Linked DNA regions of Homo sapiens: region 2 is linked to region 1. The links come from fine-mapping of genetic effects on gene expression. A gene starts in region 1. The other region holds a variant in brackets. All regions are shown on one strand. Distances are from middle to middle.

Evidence for each region. PIP is the estimated chance that this variant, and not a neighbour inherited with it, causes the effect.
Region 2: its variant is fine-mapped to the expression of CASC18 in tibial artery (GTEx, PIP above 0.99).

The regions. Positions count from the first base shown.
Region 1 is chr12:105,700,307-105,708,950 of GRCh38, reverse strand. CASC18 (cancer susceptibility 18) reads right to left here and starts at 4,748. Exons shown (of 5, transcript NR_110109.1): 1 at 4,695-4,748. It overlaps LOC105369959 (a long non-coding RNA gene), which reads left to right and starts at 924. Exons shown (of 3, transcript XR_945309.3): 1 at 924-1,001; 2 at 2,115-2,186; 3 at 3,385-3,835.
Region 2 is chr12:105,335,132-105,343,709 of GRCh38, reverse strand. The region is part of intron 1 of C12orf75 (chromosome 12 open reading frame 75); the gene reads right to left. Among named protein-coding and RNA genes, the nearest start is that of C12orf75, 8.7 kb to the right of the region's middle. The variant A/T (reference allele first, on the strand shown) is at 4,273.

The DNA of each region.
Region 1 (8,644 bases):
AGGCCTGACAATCAACATTTTAAACAAGTTCCCCCAGAGATTCTAATGCCCACTAAAAGTGCCACCCTATTAAACCAGAAGTGAATCTAGATATTACAAAATTAAAACCCCATTTTCTATTCTGCTGCCCTTTTTTAAAAAATTAATAAATATTAAATGTGACGAGGACAAAATTCCTTGTATATCCAGCTTCAAGATTAGGATCCAGGCTGAATGTGGTGGCTGGCACCTGTAATCCCAGCATTTTGGGAGGCCGAGGCGGGCAGATCACCTGAGGTCAGGAGTTTGAGACCAGCCGGGCCAATACGGTGAAACCCCCTCTCTGCTAAAAATACAAAAATTAGCCAGCATGGTGGTGCATGCCTGTAGTCCCAGCGAATTGGGAGGCTGAGGTAGGAGAATCACTCGAACCTAGGTGGTGGAGGTTGCAGTGAGCCAAGATCACGTCACTGCACTCCTACCTGGGCAACAGAGTGAGATTCCATCTCCAAAAAAAAAAAAAAAAAAGACTAGGATCCTAAATAGTCAATAGACAAGGAGTTTCAAGGTTAAAATTCTTTCCACTCTCTTTCACCCATACATAAATAGTCTGTGTTCTTATTTGCCAATGCTAAACAGAGGCCTTCCTATGTGATTATTTATGTTGTCAAGTATATCACATAAAATATAAGACATAAATTACTCTATGTGTGGCTTCTTATCAGCTTTGAGTATACACATTTTCAGCCTCAATGTGAAATCAGAGTTTGCTTCTAAATGGTATCTGGACATACAGAATTTGTAAAGAAATCTATCCTCTTTGTTTAAGAGAAGATATCAATGTAATTTTGCCTCGTGCAGATTCCGTCCTTATTTTTTTTTTTTACTTTAACTACTTTAAAAACCTTTTTTTTTTCCCAGTACAAAAGGTGAATCCATTTCACGAGGAGGAGCTCAGTCAAATTTTATATGAGGGGAGACCAAGTTTGATCTTGCCGAGAGATCCTCGTTCTGTAAACCCCGTAAGTAGGAGTGTGAAGGGAGAAAGCCAGAAACGGGTTTTAATATGGATGTGCAAAAAAGTTCAAGGAAAGACGAAGAGGAAAAGAAAGCAAGCCTTCCATGTTTATCTGCTCCATCTATTTCCTGCCTGTAATTTATGCCATAGGTTAATTCCCGGGAAGTAGGAAAAAGACTCACCTTGTACTACAGTTAAATCTTGTGGAGAATAAGTAAAATTCCAAACATATCCCAAAGTAATGTAAGAGCAGAGGCCTCTTATTTTGCAGAGGAAAGAGGCCTCCTAAAAATGCTGCACACAGATGTTTAAGCATCAGAGAGACATGGACTAGTAGATCCTTGGAGCGAAAAGGTGCAGAGAGAGAAATCGCCCAGTCCAGAGGAAGAACATGAACCCCGGAGTGGAGAGGAGTCCCTCCCAAATTTACAGGGCAAGTCAGCGGCAGAGCTGGTCTAGAAACTGCACCCCTGACTTCTAGCCCCTGCCTGATTCTGTGCGCCCATGTAAGCTCTAAAGGACGCCATTCACTATGTGGTCCCAGTCAAATCTTCTATGTGCTATGTACGATGGTTGACCCAAAAAGAATTGTCTCATCATTGCCCTTCCCCTCCCCTCTGCAAAACAAAACAAAACAAAAAAAAACCTTGTGGCTTTGTCCTTACTAGGCAACAATTTCATCACACTTTGTCATTTAGTAAGTATAAAACAGCCAGCCAACTTCTAAGGACAGAAATACACATCCCCGGTCTAATTCTTGCCTCTAGCCTTTCAAAGCTCAAGGCCTGGCTTTGGGGCAAGAGGGTCCACGTGTATATGTGTGTGTGCACGTGTGTGCATGTGTGTGGGTGTGTGTGGCAGGGGATAGAAAGCCCATCACATGTACCTGGAACACAGCTTTGATCCACATCTTTCTCAGCCCAGTAAAAAACTTGTAGCCACTAAAGCATCTGAGCACTGAAGCATCTTAACCACTAAAGCATGTGGGGCATTGTCATCTGACCCCACTGCCATAGGCCCCTTTTTACAGATGGCTGAATACTTTCTCAATGAGGCCATTGCACTTGCCCTGAGGGGGAGGACCTCTCATCACTCACCTGCTGCCATTCTTTTCCAGGGCCCAGAACAATCCCAGGGGCCTTAACTACAGACTCTAATTGGGCGCATCAGCATCACGAGTAGGACTCAAGTAAGAAAGGGGCATATTTATGTTTCTTATCGTGCGTCTACAGGGAGGGGCTGAAAAGGACTCAAAAGCCTATGAAAACTTGTATTGCAGATGGGGAGGAGGGATGAGGGTAGAAACAAAAAATAATATACAGCACTTTATCCAACCATTTTATAACAAGTTGAAATCAGGCTCCTTCCAGATTGAAATGGATCCTCCAGTCCCATAATTAAATTGGGAAAATGAAGCCATTTCATGCCTTTGGCTCCCTTTGATCATTGTTATTTCTGTGACTAATGTGTAACTGGAGCTGCTTTTTCTGGGGCATGAGCCTCGCCTGGGCAGCTGCTAGGAGAGTGTGGCCTGGTCTCCTGTTGTCAGCGCAAGCTGACGGCAAGGCCAGGGCTCAGCAAGGTCAGGTTAGTCTCAGCCAAAGTGGACTGGAAGAGATGCACCTGCGCTGACAAGCAGCTATCTGTTCCCATTTGCCTCTGACTGCATTTCTCCAGGGCCTCCCTTGTCCTGGAGAACTCTTGGGTGGGAACTGGTGTTTTTTCCCTTGAAAGGAAGAGATAGAGGACATTTCAAGAGATAGGAGCAGAACATTGCCTCTCAAATTGTAAAGAAGGTGACTTCTGAAGCTCATCATTTTAATTTTCCCTCCCCTTTGTCCCTCATCAACTTCTATTCCTGCATCCTCCCTAACCCCTCCATGCGTGCATCACACACACACATACACACACACATACACTCACACTCACACGCTGGGCACAGCAGGCATGCAAGCACAGTTGGGAATTCTGTGAGTCCTTCTAGACTAAGGAAACTCAAACTAAAAAGTAAAATCTATTAATAACAACTCCCTCCTCCCCATTTACTACGGAATTTGCTCTTGCGGATTCTCTAGAGCGCCCTCATGTGACGCCCTGTTGTAATAGCATTCAAGACTTTGGAAGGATATAAGGATCTGTTGAAACACTGTATCACCACAATTCAAAGTATCACTTTTCCGGATGAATAACGCCTAGTATTTGATAGCACAAAACGAGGACTGTAGTCAATAATAATTTAATTGTACATTTTTTTAAATGCCCAAATTATTTAAATTTCAGAAAGAGATGGGCCCTTCAGGGAGAGGAAGGCTCGGCTGTCTTAATCTCTGGGAGCCCTGTAGAAGAATGAGAAGACAAACAGCTGACTTTTTTCTAATTTTTAACAGCTACTTGTGGACCAAGGTGACACTTAGGAATCCCAAGAAGCTCCAGCCATAAAGGGAGTCGGTATCCTTCCTCCAATTGTAAACCCCAGCACTCCCACTGAACACACTGGCCATGCCAAAAGTTCACACATCGGCCACGCAAAGAGCTCAAAGAGATCCATTCAGTACCTGGGAAGGCACGATCACTACGGGGAGAATCAGAAACCACGCGATCGCCAGGTGGCCTTCAAAGAAGCCTCCTCCCAGAAGGTCCAGAATCCCATCCAGAGACATTTCTGTCACTCTTCTCAAGCCACCTCATCATCTCTCTCTGCAGTTGAACTGCTGATGTTTCTGAGATTGTGGGTTTGTTCAAAATGAAGCTTGGCAGAATCATAATTTATAGGCTAATATTTTGTAAGTAGAGACAATTCATGACTTAGAATCTTATGAATAAATTGCTCCTGTTTTATTGCTCTGTGTGTGTGTGTGTGTGGGTGTGGGTGTGGGTGTGGGTGTGTGTGCATATAACTTTTCTTTTTCCACGTTTACCTCTTGAGTGGGCCCATTAAACTGAGAAGTACTGCGTGAGGTCTTGAGATAGCACAAGCCTTCGCCACCCCTGTAAAGGTGTGACGTGTGTCTAGGCAAAACCCTGGCAGGTCTCCAGGCGGTCCTTCTGAGTTAGGGCTCTGAACACTCTCTCTTAAAGCCCTGAGCTATGAACACAGCTTTGAACGGGACAGAGAAAGACCAAGTCAGAGGGGGAGCAGCTGTGTCTTTCTCCTCTCTGCTTCATTATAGACAAAATTGACCTCTGGGCCAAGTCTCATTAACTAATTGAAGAGTTCATAGTCACACAGTGTTTCTCAAAACGAGATTCAGAGAACACGAGCATCAGAAACACCTGAAGTGTTTGTTGGAATTGCAGCTACCTGGGCCCCATTTGGTGCCTGTTGAATCAGAATCTGTGGTATAAGAACCTAAGATCTGCATTTCCAATACACTTATAAGTTGAGTGTCAAGCACAGTAAAGTTTGGGCAGCCCGTCCCTTAATCTTTTCACATCCCGTCAGATTACAGATTTATATTTTAACAAAAGCCTTTATTTCCATAAGCCAACAGGGGAACTTCAGATACTGCTGTGGGGCAGCAGGGGAGATGTTGTTAAGCAAAGGGAGAAGGGCTTCCAGCGCCTCTTGATTTTTTCTGCAGAGGTAGCTGCACATGCAGCTGGTCAGAGTTTACCTTCTATGTCCTACCCCTGTGAATGCACCCCAGAGCTGGAGCACGCATTGAGGTCAGGGGGGCGCCTACCTGGAAGGACCTACCTGGAAACTGGATATCCAGTGAGGAGAGGAGAAGGGGCTGTCAGAAAATCAGCTCACCTCTAGACGGCGGCAACTCAGATAAGAGGAGCTTGTACTTCCGGTCTCTCCTCCCTCATCCCTTTCTGGTTGGGAAATTTTGTTCAAGCTACCGCTGTATGCTTCTGTTTTCTCTGAAGAAAATGGAGACTAATATTTATGCCTGCCTCAATAAATACATTTTTATTATAATTAATTTTGAAAGGTCCTGAGATTGGTAGGAAGATCACGTCCTCAGAGGCAGGTGTTGTGAACAGTGGATATGAAGTTGCATGGAAAATCTTCCACATGCTCAGTCCATCCCCAAGGGAAAAGGAATGTCTGGTGGGAAGTGAAGAGCTCTGAGCCCCTGCCTTCTCTGCTGCAGCACCCACCATCTTCCTCTTCTATTCCAGCCATGCGAGGCTTTTTTCTATTCCTTGAACCCAACAAACATTGCTCGTCTTCAGCCAGGATTGGGAAGCACTGCTCAATCCACTGCTGTATATAAATCTAGCTCACGGGTTGGGACTTTTCAGGCAGGGAAAGGCTCATTAGGAAACTGAGGCTGATTTTGGATGTTTCCAGGTCAGGAAGGTTGTATGTGTAGGTTTTCTTCTGCATTGGGCACAGAACATTGGATGGTCATTCTCATTCCCATCTTTGGCAAGGGCTGGGATGAAGTATGTGCTGGTGGTTCCTGAGCTGCCTAGCAGAGACGTGGGCTTGGGGAGGAGGACATTTTCTTTCCAGCAGGTGCTCGAGAGGACTCAAAGAGGTGATGAATGGAGCAAACAGAGCCTGGACTCCATCCAGGTAGACAGGGCTTATACCCAAATCTGTCACTTACTAGTTGTATGATCTTGGTTAAGCCTTAGTTTCCTCCTCTATAAAATGACTCTAAATAGTAACACCTACCTCAGAGTTGTTATGAAGATTAACAGACATAAGGTGTGTAAACCAATTACACTGTGTCTAGTACACATGACTGCCCTGTTCATACTAACTATGGTGATTTGATGTTTGGGAGCCACGCTTTTTAGTCTTTAAGGTCTGTGTAATCTCGCTGTCTTGTTTTATTTTATATTTCCCCATTTATTCTCTATTCTCGCTCCTGTTTCCTCCCATTTCCCTCTCCTGTCTTCCTTCCTGGGATTTCTTATATGTCCTTAGATTATCTCCAAAAAACACAGAACTTGGTTTTGTGTGTATATTAAAGTTTAATATCCTTAAGTAGTAACGTGCTATAAATCGTTTACCACCTTTTGCACTCAACACTAAGATTTTTAGAGGTATCCATATTATGGTTTGCCAGTGGTTCTCAACTTCACTATGAAACAGAATCACTTGGGAGCTTTTGAAAAATTTCAATACCTGGACCTCCATTCCAGTTATTCTGATTTAATTTGTCTAGGGTGCGGGCCAAGCCTCAGGTCATTCTAAAGTGCAGCCAGGATTGAGAAGCACTGCTCAATCCACTGCTGTATATAAATCTAGCTCACAGGTTGGGACTTCTCAGGCAGGGAAAAGCCCGGGGTTCACCTTTTTCTGCCTCACCAAGTCTCTGCAGTAAAATCAGGTGATGACGACCCTAAGGACAGCGTTAAAAGGAAAAAGAAGAGAGGAGAAGGCAACTTGCAGCCTAAGGCATATGTAAGAAAGAGCAGAAATCAGAACTCCTACTCTGCCCTATTTGTCAGAGTCATGTTATTGATTCATCTGTTCGTCCATTTAATCACCCAGGATTTACTGAGCTCCTCAGACATTCTGCTAGGTGCAGGGAATACAGCAGTGAACAGGGTAGACAGTCTCAACACTCAGTGGCTTTCATACCTGTTAAAATAAAGCTTCTCAGGCCTCATGTCGAGAGCTTCTGACCCAGTAGGTACAGGGCTTGGCTCAGGAGTCTACATCTTGAAAAAGTGCAGCAGGTGATACCAATGCCTATGATCCTGGGAATCTTTTGTAGAAAATTGGTCTAGCCAATTTATGAGTCAGGTTGTTTTTAAGCATGCTTGATAAATTTAGCCCATTTCTCCCTTTTAGAATTTTTTTTGAAACAGCAGAACCCCTATTTACTATGTGTCTTCAGCAGCAACTACAGCCTTAGAACTCTCTTCCTCTGACTAGACATTCCTATACATGATACCACCAACAATTAATTCATTGTTGCTGGTGCACCCACATTATACAGTTGCTATAGAGTCATGGTCACATTTAAGCCCTACCAAAACTCTGCGAGGTAGGTCTCATCCTTCATATGAGAAAACTGAGGCTCATGTTGGTTAAGTGATTTTCCCAAGATTATACCTCCAGGAATTAACCACATGTCCCTCTGCTTCAAGACCTGGGCTTCTCGCCACCATATTGCATGAGGCTCCCTAGAAGGCCAGGACAGTCTTCACTCATCCTGTTATCTCTTGGAATACCCAACTACACTAACAGATGGCTATTCCAATCACAATCACTGAACCAGTTATTAGCTGGATGCTACATTCTTTCCATACACAAAGTATACAGAGGAATCCCTCTCATCTGGAGTTAACTGGCACTAGTAGCTGGTTGGCTCATTGGAAAAACGTAGCTCAATCTGGGAATCATTAAAAGGTGATGTATGTATACAGTAAGTATTTTATTTTAACCTGAAATATATAAATGTATATTCATGAGCCAGACCTCTAATGTGGAGCCAAAGGGTTTTTTAATTTTTTTCCACTTTAAGTTCTCTGATTGGAGTTTCAGTACTCTTTCTAACATAACCTATACCGATAATATATATTCTAGAACTTCTAATGTTTATTTTCTTAAAGTAGAGTAAAACATATTTGTACCTTCTAAATAAGCTAAGTACAAAATCCTATTAAAATACATAATTCAGGAATATATTAAAATTTTAAATATACAGATAAGTTGATAAAATGGCAAAATAAACACCAAATACCCACTGCCTAAATTAAACAACTGTTAACATTTTGTCGTATTTACCTTATTTCTCATGCTATTTTTAGAGCTGCATCTACATCCATTCATCTATCATCCATCTATACATTGTTTTTTTGCTAAATATTTGAAAATAAGTTGCAGATATCATGACACTTCACCCATAAATATGTCAGCAGGTACCTCCTGAGTATAAGAACACGCCTCTATATCATTTTCACACCCTGAAAAATAATGGTAACTTTAAAATAACATCTGATATTGAGCATTCAAATTTCCCCAACCGTCACAAGACTGTCTTTTAGAGGTGATTTTTTTCTCAATCAAGATTCAGTCTTGGTTCATGCATTGCATTTGATGTTATATTTTTTTGGCCCGCCATTTTTTTTTTTGACAGTGACTTTTGGAAGAGTTCAGACCATTTTGTAATATTCTGGATTGAACTGTTTTCTCATGGTACATGTTTCTCTTTACCCTGTGATATAGTTTGGATATCTGTCCCTTCAAAATCTCATGTCAACATTTGATCCCCAACACTGGAGGTGGAACCTAGTAAGAGGTGTTTGTGTCATGGAGGTGGATCCCTTATGTATAACTTGGTGCTGTCATTGCAGTAATGAGTGAGTTCTCACTATATTAGTTCTCATGAGATCTGATTGTTAAAAAGAGTCTGTCACCTCTTCCCTCTTCTAATCTTGGCAGAAGGTGCAGAGGGAGCTTGTCACATGGCTCCCTCTCTTGTTATGTGACATGCCTGCTCCCTCTGCACCTTCTGCCATGACTAGAAGATTCCTGAAGCCCTCACCAGAATCAGTTGCTGGCACCATGCTTCTTATATAGCCTGCAGAACTGTGAGCCAAATAAACCTCTTTTCTTTATAAACTACCCAGCCTCGGGTATTCCTTTATAGCAACACAATGGTCTAAGACACCCTGAATTCACTGTAAACTGGATTAAGGTTATAAGCTTCAGTAGATTCAGCTTGAATATTTAGG
Region 2 (8,578 bases), 370 kb after region 1:
TGTTGGAAACCCTAAACAAAACTATCAGAGTACCTAGGTACATAAAATGCAAAGCATAAGTTTATTTGTCCTGTAAAAGTATAAAATCATAAAATGATCAGAAATAAAATTACCCTCACTGCAACCTTTTAATTACACTTTGCTTATATATTTATTGTAATTAACCAAATGGCAATCCCTAATCTAAGTAATTATGCAAAAAGTGCTTTGATCAAAATTAGATAGTGGCAAGATCCCATTTGCTTTAAACTGTATCTGTGGTTCATGTGCTTTATCATTTATTAAGCAAATATGTATAATGTTACATCTATTTTTTTCCAGGCCACAAGGATACATCATTCATCCTAATACCACTTCATGTCCTGCCAAATTGGCTCCTTACTGTTTAAACATAACCTTGGTGGGTTAATACAATGGGCCTAGGGCCTCAGGAGAAGTAGAAATGAAAAAAAGGTAACAATGTTTCTTGTGGGGAAAAAAAACACACCAAAAAATATAGAGAGACTATTATAATTTGGAGGGGAGGGGGTCAAAAGATTTAATGACTATTTCCCAAAACTGTAGAAATGATAATCATAATTTTAAATATCTTCCTAAAAATGGAGAGGGGAAAGGTTTGTTCTCAGGAAAGTATTATATGCAGTTTCAGTAATAAAAATTGTAAATAGAATGTAAAGAAGGACATTTCCATCACTGTTGGTTGTTTACAGTATCACTTCATCTCACCTTGGCTCTGTTTAGCTTTTACTTTCCACATTTCAGAAGATTTTAACATTTTATTCATCAGTCTCAATGACAGAAGTCTCAGTTAATTAAAAATGCATAGCAAATCCCATCTATTCAAACATTCAAAAAACTTAATCTGATATTGCAGTTTCATCATAAGATATTTGGTCTTTGCCCCTGGTTCCTGGCACAGAGCTCCTAAAACCCCTGGAATTTCCTGAGTGATGAGTGACAGGAGCCTCTCTGTGAGGCTTCTAATGAGATGACTCTTGGCCAAGCCCCTATATGGCTTCAGGATGGGGGCTGTTTGCTAGAAAGACCAAGCCTTGATTAGAAGCTTGGAACATTGAGCTCCACCCTGCCACCTGCAGAGAGAGGAGAGAGGCTGGAGATTGAGTTAATCACCAGTGGCAAAGGATTTAACCAGCCATGCTTGTGTCTTGGTCCTTTTTGTGTTGCTGTTATAGAATACCACAGACTGGATAATTTATAAAGAAAATAAAATGTATTTCTTACAGTCTAGAGGCTGGGAAGTCCAAGATTGAGGGGCTCACATCTGGTGAGGGCCTTTATGCTCCTTCATCCCATGTGGGAAGGCAGAAGGGCAAGACAGCAAGAGCGCAAGAAGGGGCCAAACTTGCTTTTACAGCAACCCACTCTCTCAATAACCAGCCCACTCTCTCAATAACCAACCCATTCCATTCGTCCCCCAGTTTATTTATGATTAAACACATTAATCCATTCATGGGAGCAGAGCCCTCAAGCCCTAATCACTTCTTATTAGGTCCCACCTCCCAACACTACTGCATTGGGTATTAAATTTCCAACACATGTTGGGGAACGCACTCAAACCACAGCACCTACGAAAACCTCAAAATAACTGGATGTATTAGTCTGTTCTCATGCTGCTAATAAAGACATACCCTAGACTGGGTAATTTATAAAGGAAACATGCTTAATTGACTCACAGTTCCACATGGCTGCAGAGGCCTCACAGTCATGGTGGAACACAAAGGAGGAGCAAAGTCACATCTTACATGGCAGCAGGCAAGAGAGCTTGTGCAGGGGAACTCCCATTTATAAAACCATCAGATCTCATGACTTATTCACTACCACGACAACAGTATGGGGGAACCACCCCCATGATTCAGTTACCTCCATCTGGCCCAGCCCTTGACATGTGGGGATTACTACAATTCAAGGTGAGATTTGGGTGGAGACACAGCCAAACCATATTACTGGATTCAGTGAGCTTCCAGGTTGGTGAACTTATCTACCCATCAGGACTGTGGTATAGCCCAACTCCACTGGGGCCAGAGGCTTCTGCACTTGGGACACTTCCAGACTTCCCCAAGTACCTCTTCCACTGGCTGTTCATTCAGACCCTTTATGATCAAACAGTAAACATGAGGAAAGTGTCCTCCTGAGTCCTGTGAGCTATTCTAGCAAATCATTGAGCCTGAAGAGATTTGTGAAGACCCCCAAATCTATAGCTGACAGAAGTGTGGCAACCTGGAAGCGCAATATTTGCAACTAGAGTCTGAAGGGAGGGCAGTCTTGTGGGACCGACCCACTAAACCTGTGGAGGCTGACACTAACTCCAGGTAGTGTTAGAATTGAATTGAATTGCAGGACACTTGGTGTCAAAGAATTAGGTGTCAGGAAACGGGGGAAAAAAAAAACCTCTCAGACATTCTTTATGTTTCATACAAAAATTGTATGTGTCCTAGTAGTGGTTAAGGTTCTGAACAGTCTTGAAGGGCTTTATGAATCACACCAAGATTGCATCATGCTGTGTTTATTTAAGCAAAGAATTATTTATACTCCAGGTATACAGTTTAATACATTTTCTTATATTCTGATTTTGTCTCATTTCTGAACTACTGCAGAAAAATATTGTCTTCGTTTCACATGGCTGCTGTAACAAATTACCACAAACTGGGTGGTTTAAACAACAGAAATCTATGCACTCATAGATCTGGAGGCCAGAAGTACAAAATCAAGGTCTCAGCAGATCCAAACTCCTTCCAGAGGCCTTAGGGAAGCACCCATTCCATGCCTCTCCTGGCTTCTGGTGCAGCAAGCATTCCTTGGCTTGTGGCCCCATCATCTCTGCTCCACCTCCATTTTCACATCACCTTCCCTTCTATGTCCGTCTTCTCATCTTGTGTCTCTCATAAACACCCTTCTCATTGGATTTAGAGCCTACTCAGATAATCTAGTATAATCTCCGCATCTCAAAACCCTTAACTTTATTACATTTGCAAAGATCCTTTATCCAAATAAGGTTGCATTCACTCACTGCAGAAAAGAGAACATGGACATATCTTTTTGGGGGCTACCATTCAACCCACTAGACCTTCTTATCTTTGTCCTTCCCTGTCTCCAAAAAATACTCTCTTTTAAAATACAGAGCAAAATGAGTATCTGGAGGGAAACTAAATGTAATATATGTATCATGCACGACACAAACGGAACTTTATTCCTCGTGAATGATAACACAAGCCAGCTACAAGATACTGCACTGAGTAAATTTTTTTTTTTTTTTTTTTTGGCGGGGGCACGGAGTCTCACTCTGTTGCTCAGGCTGGATTGCAGTGGCACGATCTCGGCTCACTGCAACCTCCGCCTCCCAGGTCGAAGCGATTCTCCTGCCTCAGCGTCCCAAGTAGCTAGGACCACAGGCGCATGCCACCACGCCCGGCTAATTTTTTGTATTTTTAGTAGAGATGGGGTTTCACTGTGTTAGCAAGGATGGTCTTGATCTCCTGACCTTGTGATCCACCCGCCTCTGCCTCCCAAAGTGCTGGGATTACAGGCGTGAGCCACCACGCCCCACCTGCATTGAGTAATTTTAAGTAGATGGACACAATATCTTGGTTCCTACAGACAGATGGTCCTTTGAGAGCTAATCAGCCTGTCGTATACATTAAAAACCATGAATCATACTGTCCAGCATGTCTTCAGTATTATACAGATTCAAACATTTATTGATGTGAGTATTTCCTCCCAAATGCCAAAGTCTATTATGAAGAACATACTTTTATCTTTTAAAAGAAACAAGGGCCAGGCATGGTGGCTCACGCCTGTAATCCCAGCATTTTGGGAGGCTGAGGTGGGTGGATCACGAGGTCAGGAGATCGAGACCATCCTAGCTAGCTAACACAGTGAAACCCCGTCTCTACTAAAAATACAAAAAATTAGCTGAGCGTGGTGGCGGGCGCCTATAGTCCCAGCTACTCGGGAGGCTGAGGCGGGAAAAAGGCATGAACCCGGCAGGCGGAGCTTGCAGTGAGCGGAGATCACGCCACTGCACCTAGCCTGAGTGACAGAGCAAGACTCCGTCTCAAAAAAAAAGAAAGAAAGAAAGAAAGAAAAGGTCATATACATTTTAGTCCATTAATACCTTTTATGACCACCATACTATATAGACTCTAGACTTTATAAAATATACTAGAAATATTCACAGGTAAATGAATTGCTAAGTTACATATTAAGTTACATTCTTCAAACCAAGTGGTGATAATTCACACACACACACACCCG[A/T]AATAAAATTATGTATGTGAAGAATTTGTAAAAAAAAAAAAAAAATACTGAAGATTTAAAAAGCACTCTTCTTTCAGCATAAATTATCAGAAACATAAATGCCTATGGTTCTTATGGGAAATAATAAAAACATGCAAGAATGTCTTACTCCTTATTTGTTTTAGAAAAGAAACAGTCCCTCCGAGAACTATATAAATATAACTGCAGAAAAATAAATAAAATTCTCTTTAATTTTGACAGCTTGCTATGCTCTTCTGACCCACAATAGTTATAAAACTATGTCATAGTCTTGGTTTGGCCAAAAGAAATGGAACAACAGCTCATTACTTCATCCAAAGCAATGCTTATTTTTCAGAGTGCAATAAAAAAATACAGATTCATAAGTGATTTCTTCAAATAATGGAGGAAAAAAATTCAGGTCAATGTGTCCTAGAAATATAAAATTATATATTGACATAAAATTATGTCAATGAAAATGGAAGCTCTTATAGAAAATCTCATTTTTATAGGTCGTCCTTGTTGAGTAGTGCTAGAGTTTGGTTTGTTTGTCCCCTCCAAATCTCATGGGGGTGGGGTCTAATGGGAGGTGTTTGGGCCATAGGGGCAGATCCTTCATGAATGGCTGGTGGTAACAAGTGGGCTCTAACTGTATTAGTTTCCATGAGAGCTGGCTGGTCATTAGCAAGAGCCTGGCACCTCCCTCCCTTCTCTCTACTGCTTCCACTCTTGCCATGTGATCTCTGCACACTATGGCTCCCTTTTACCTTCTACCATGAATGATAGCAGCCTGAAGCCCTCAGCAGAAGCAGATGCTGGTGCCATGCTTCTTGTACAGGCTGCAGAACCACGAGCCAAATACACCTCTATTCTTTATCAATTACCCCGTCTCAGGTATTCCTTTATAGCAACACAAAAATGAACTAAGACAAGCAGCTATACTTTAGGCAAGTAAAAACCAAAAAATGGCCAGGCGCAGTGGCTCACACCTGTAATCCCAGCACTCTGGGAGGCCAAGACGGGTGGATCACCTGAGGTCTGGAATTTGTGACCAGCTTGGCCAACACAGTGAAACCCCATCTCCACTAAAAATACAAAATTAGCTGGGTGCGGTGGTGCATGCCTGTAATCCCAGCTACTCGGGAGGCCGAGGAAGGAAAATCTCTTGAACCTGGGAGGTGGAGGTTGCACTGAGCCGAGATCATGCCACTGCATTCCATCCTGGGTGACAGAGCAAGACTCCATCTCAAAATAAATAAATAAATAAATGAAAGATAAATGCAGCCATATAAGAAGTACAGGCATAAGTTAGTGCACTGACATTTAGCTGATATAATAAAATTTAAGCCATGTCTATATGGAGCTATAAGTGGCTCATGGTAAAACTGCCTTTGCTGAATTATAAATAATGAGAGAAATTTAATATAACTGACTCTATTTTGCTTTGCTTTTAATTTCATAGGTTTTTTTTCTCTTACTCTAACATGGAAGCCAAGATAACTATGAGAGGAATTTAGTTTATAGTTACACTTTGAAGCAAGGAAAACTGACCCCACCCCCCACCATACCCCATCCTTGTTCAAAGATCAAAGCTGCATTCATATGGCAAGGTTAAAATTCTGGTAGGGGCTTAAACTTTACTAAAAAATAGGCATAAACAATGACCCGCTATTGTTTAGCATGCTTTCCTATAAGTTGCTTACTGCACTAGAGTCACGTAACCAGGGGTTACAAGATTTCCAACTTCCCCAAATACTCCTATAGATAACATCAGTATTGTGAAACCTAAAGACCTGGCCTTTGACATAGTTTTCAGATTTCACATTTTGGTAGATCAAGAGATGCCACCTGGTTCTGAGAACCAACCCTTTCCTGGGAACTGACTTTACTGCCCAAAGATGTTTTAGATGCCCCTATGACCTCATCCCCAGCCAATCAATTGTTCCAATTCCCCAGTAACCCCCTGCCTACCAGAGTCCCCTTAAGAAACCCTAGCCTCCGAATTCTCAGAGAGACAGGTTTGAGAAATTTCTCTCTGCTCTCCTCACTTGGCCAGCCCTGAAATGATTAAACTCTTTATTTGCCACAAAAACTGCTGTTCTCATTGGTTTTTGTTTGTTTGTTTGTTTTTTAAGACAGGATCTTGCTCTGTCACCCAGGCTGCTCACTGCAGCCTCACTTGCAACCCTCCTGGGTTCAAGCAATTCTCCCACTTCAGCCTCCCAAGCAGCTGGGATTACAGGTGTGCGCCACCACGCCTGGTTAATTTTTGTATTTTTAGTAGAGATGGGGTTTCGCCATGTCAGCCAGGCTGGTCTCAAACTCCTGACGTCAGGTGATCCACCTGCCTCAGCCTCCCAAAGTGCTGGGATTACAGGTGTGAGCCACCGTGCCCGGCCCGTGCTGGTTTTGTTTGGGGCAGTGGGCAAAAAGAACCTACCAGGCTGTGACAATGGCAGAAATCAATCACTCGCTTTGGATGCCATCAATTCTGGGGAGACACAGCAAGCGAATGATGCACAGAGCTTCTTGGTTCTGTCTCACCAATGATTACTACCTGAGCAGAGGGGTCTCCACACCTCTCTTTATTCATCATCACTTCAAACATGGTACAGTCGAGTATGTTGATCACCTGCCCCTTACTACCTTACTTTTAGAGTGAGTAGCAACCTCCTTCCAGTTACCCAGGCTCTAACAGTTTAATTTTTACCTCTCCCTCTTCCTTCATCCCACATCTGCAGCCTCTCTTTAGCTCAACTGTCTTCCACGTATCTGTGACCTCAACGCTTCTACCCCTCAGGGCCCACAGCCATGATCCAGGCCCTCAGCACTTCTCTGAGCGCAGACAGCAGCTGTGAATGATGCCACTTCTATACGTACACGCCTTCAGTGGCTCACGCCTTCCTTCTACACCAGCTGTGTCTTTCCCTATACTGATAACAAGTAGTATATTGGGTACTTACAATATACGAGTCACTGTTCTAAACACTTTACACACATTAACTCACTGAATCTACAATAGGCTCTCTTATTACACCCCCATTTTATGGTCAAGGAACCTAAGGAACAGACAGCCTCAGCAAATTGCCCAAGGTCATACAAATGATGAATGGCAAATGTAGGATTTGTACTTGGCCTTTTTAGCTGCAGAGCCCACTCTCAACTCTGTGGCCTCAGTGCCTTTCTGTCCTCCTCGTCCCGTATCCTAACCATTCTTTCTTCCCAATACCCTGCAACCAATGTGAACGACTACATCCAATCAGGCTAGACTTCTTACTAACCTGAAATGCGCCAAGCCCATTTCTGTCTCTAGGACTTCCTACAGCACTAAAAATGACCTGCCTTCCATTTTCTGCTATCCAAATCTTACCTATTCTTCAAAGCCAAATAAAGTTCCACTTCCTCCACGCTATTCTTCAAACCCAAATCAAGTTCCACTTCCTCCATGCAGGCTTCCCTGACTTCCTGAGGTTCTATTTTCTTCACTCAATTGCTACATCAGTACAGTGTGCCCACACCAACTTAGGACTTCATTTTGAATCTTTTTTGTTTCCCAAATATACTCATTCATTCAACAAATATATTTCAAGAACCAAAAAATCCATTTAAAATGTGGAAACTGGTCTAGAGGCTGAGGATATGGCTGTAAACAAAATGTATAGGCTTTCATGAGGCCTCCATTTGTGGGAGGGGAAAGGAGACAAGAAATAAACATAGTATCAGCTCTCCAGCAAAAAAGTGTTTCACACAGAGAGAAAACAAGAGTGAGTTCCATTAAAAATGTGGAAACTAGTCTAGAGGCTGAGGATACAGCCGTAAACAAAATGTATAGGCTTTCATGAGGCCTCCATTTGGGGGAGGGGAAAGGAGACAAGAAATAAACATAGTATCAGCTCTCCAGCAAAAAAGTGTTTCCCACAGAGAGAAAACAAGAATGAGTTCAGCATGTTTAAAGAATAGAAAGAAGGATGGTACATACTTGTGGGGAAAGGGGAGTAGTGCAAGATAAAAATGATATCAACAAAATTTTGTATTATTTTTACATTATTTCCCCCACAAATCTTGCACTATTGCTAAACAGAGCTGTATCATTTCAATACTACCAAACCATTTACAGATGTAATTAAGCCTGGACCAATATAGCTACCTCAAAAGAATGCAATTATCTAGCTAATTGAGGACAAGGACATAACTAATCTAAAATATTGGGCCCAAAAGGATTGTATTAACTCCCTGGGATACACTGATAAAATAGGGTAAATAATTATCAAGCTCCTCCCCCTCGGACTATTGTTACATAAACAGCAGA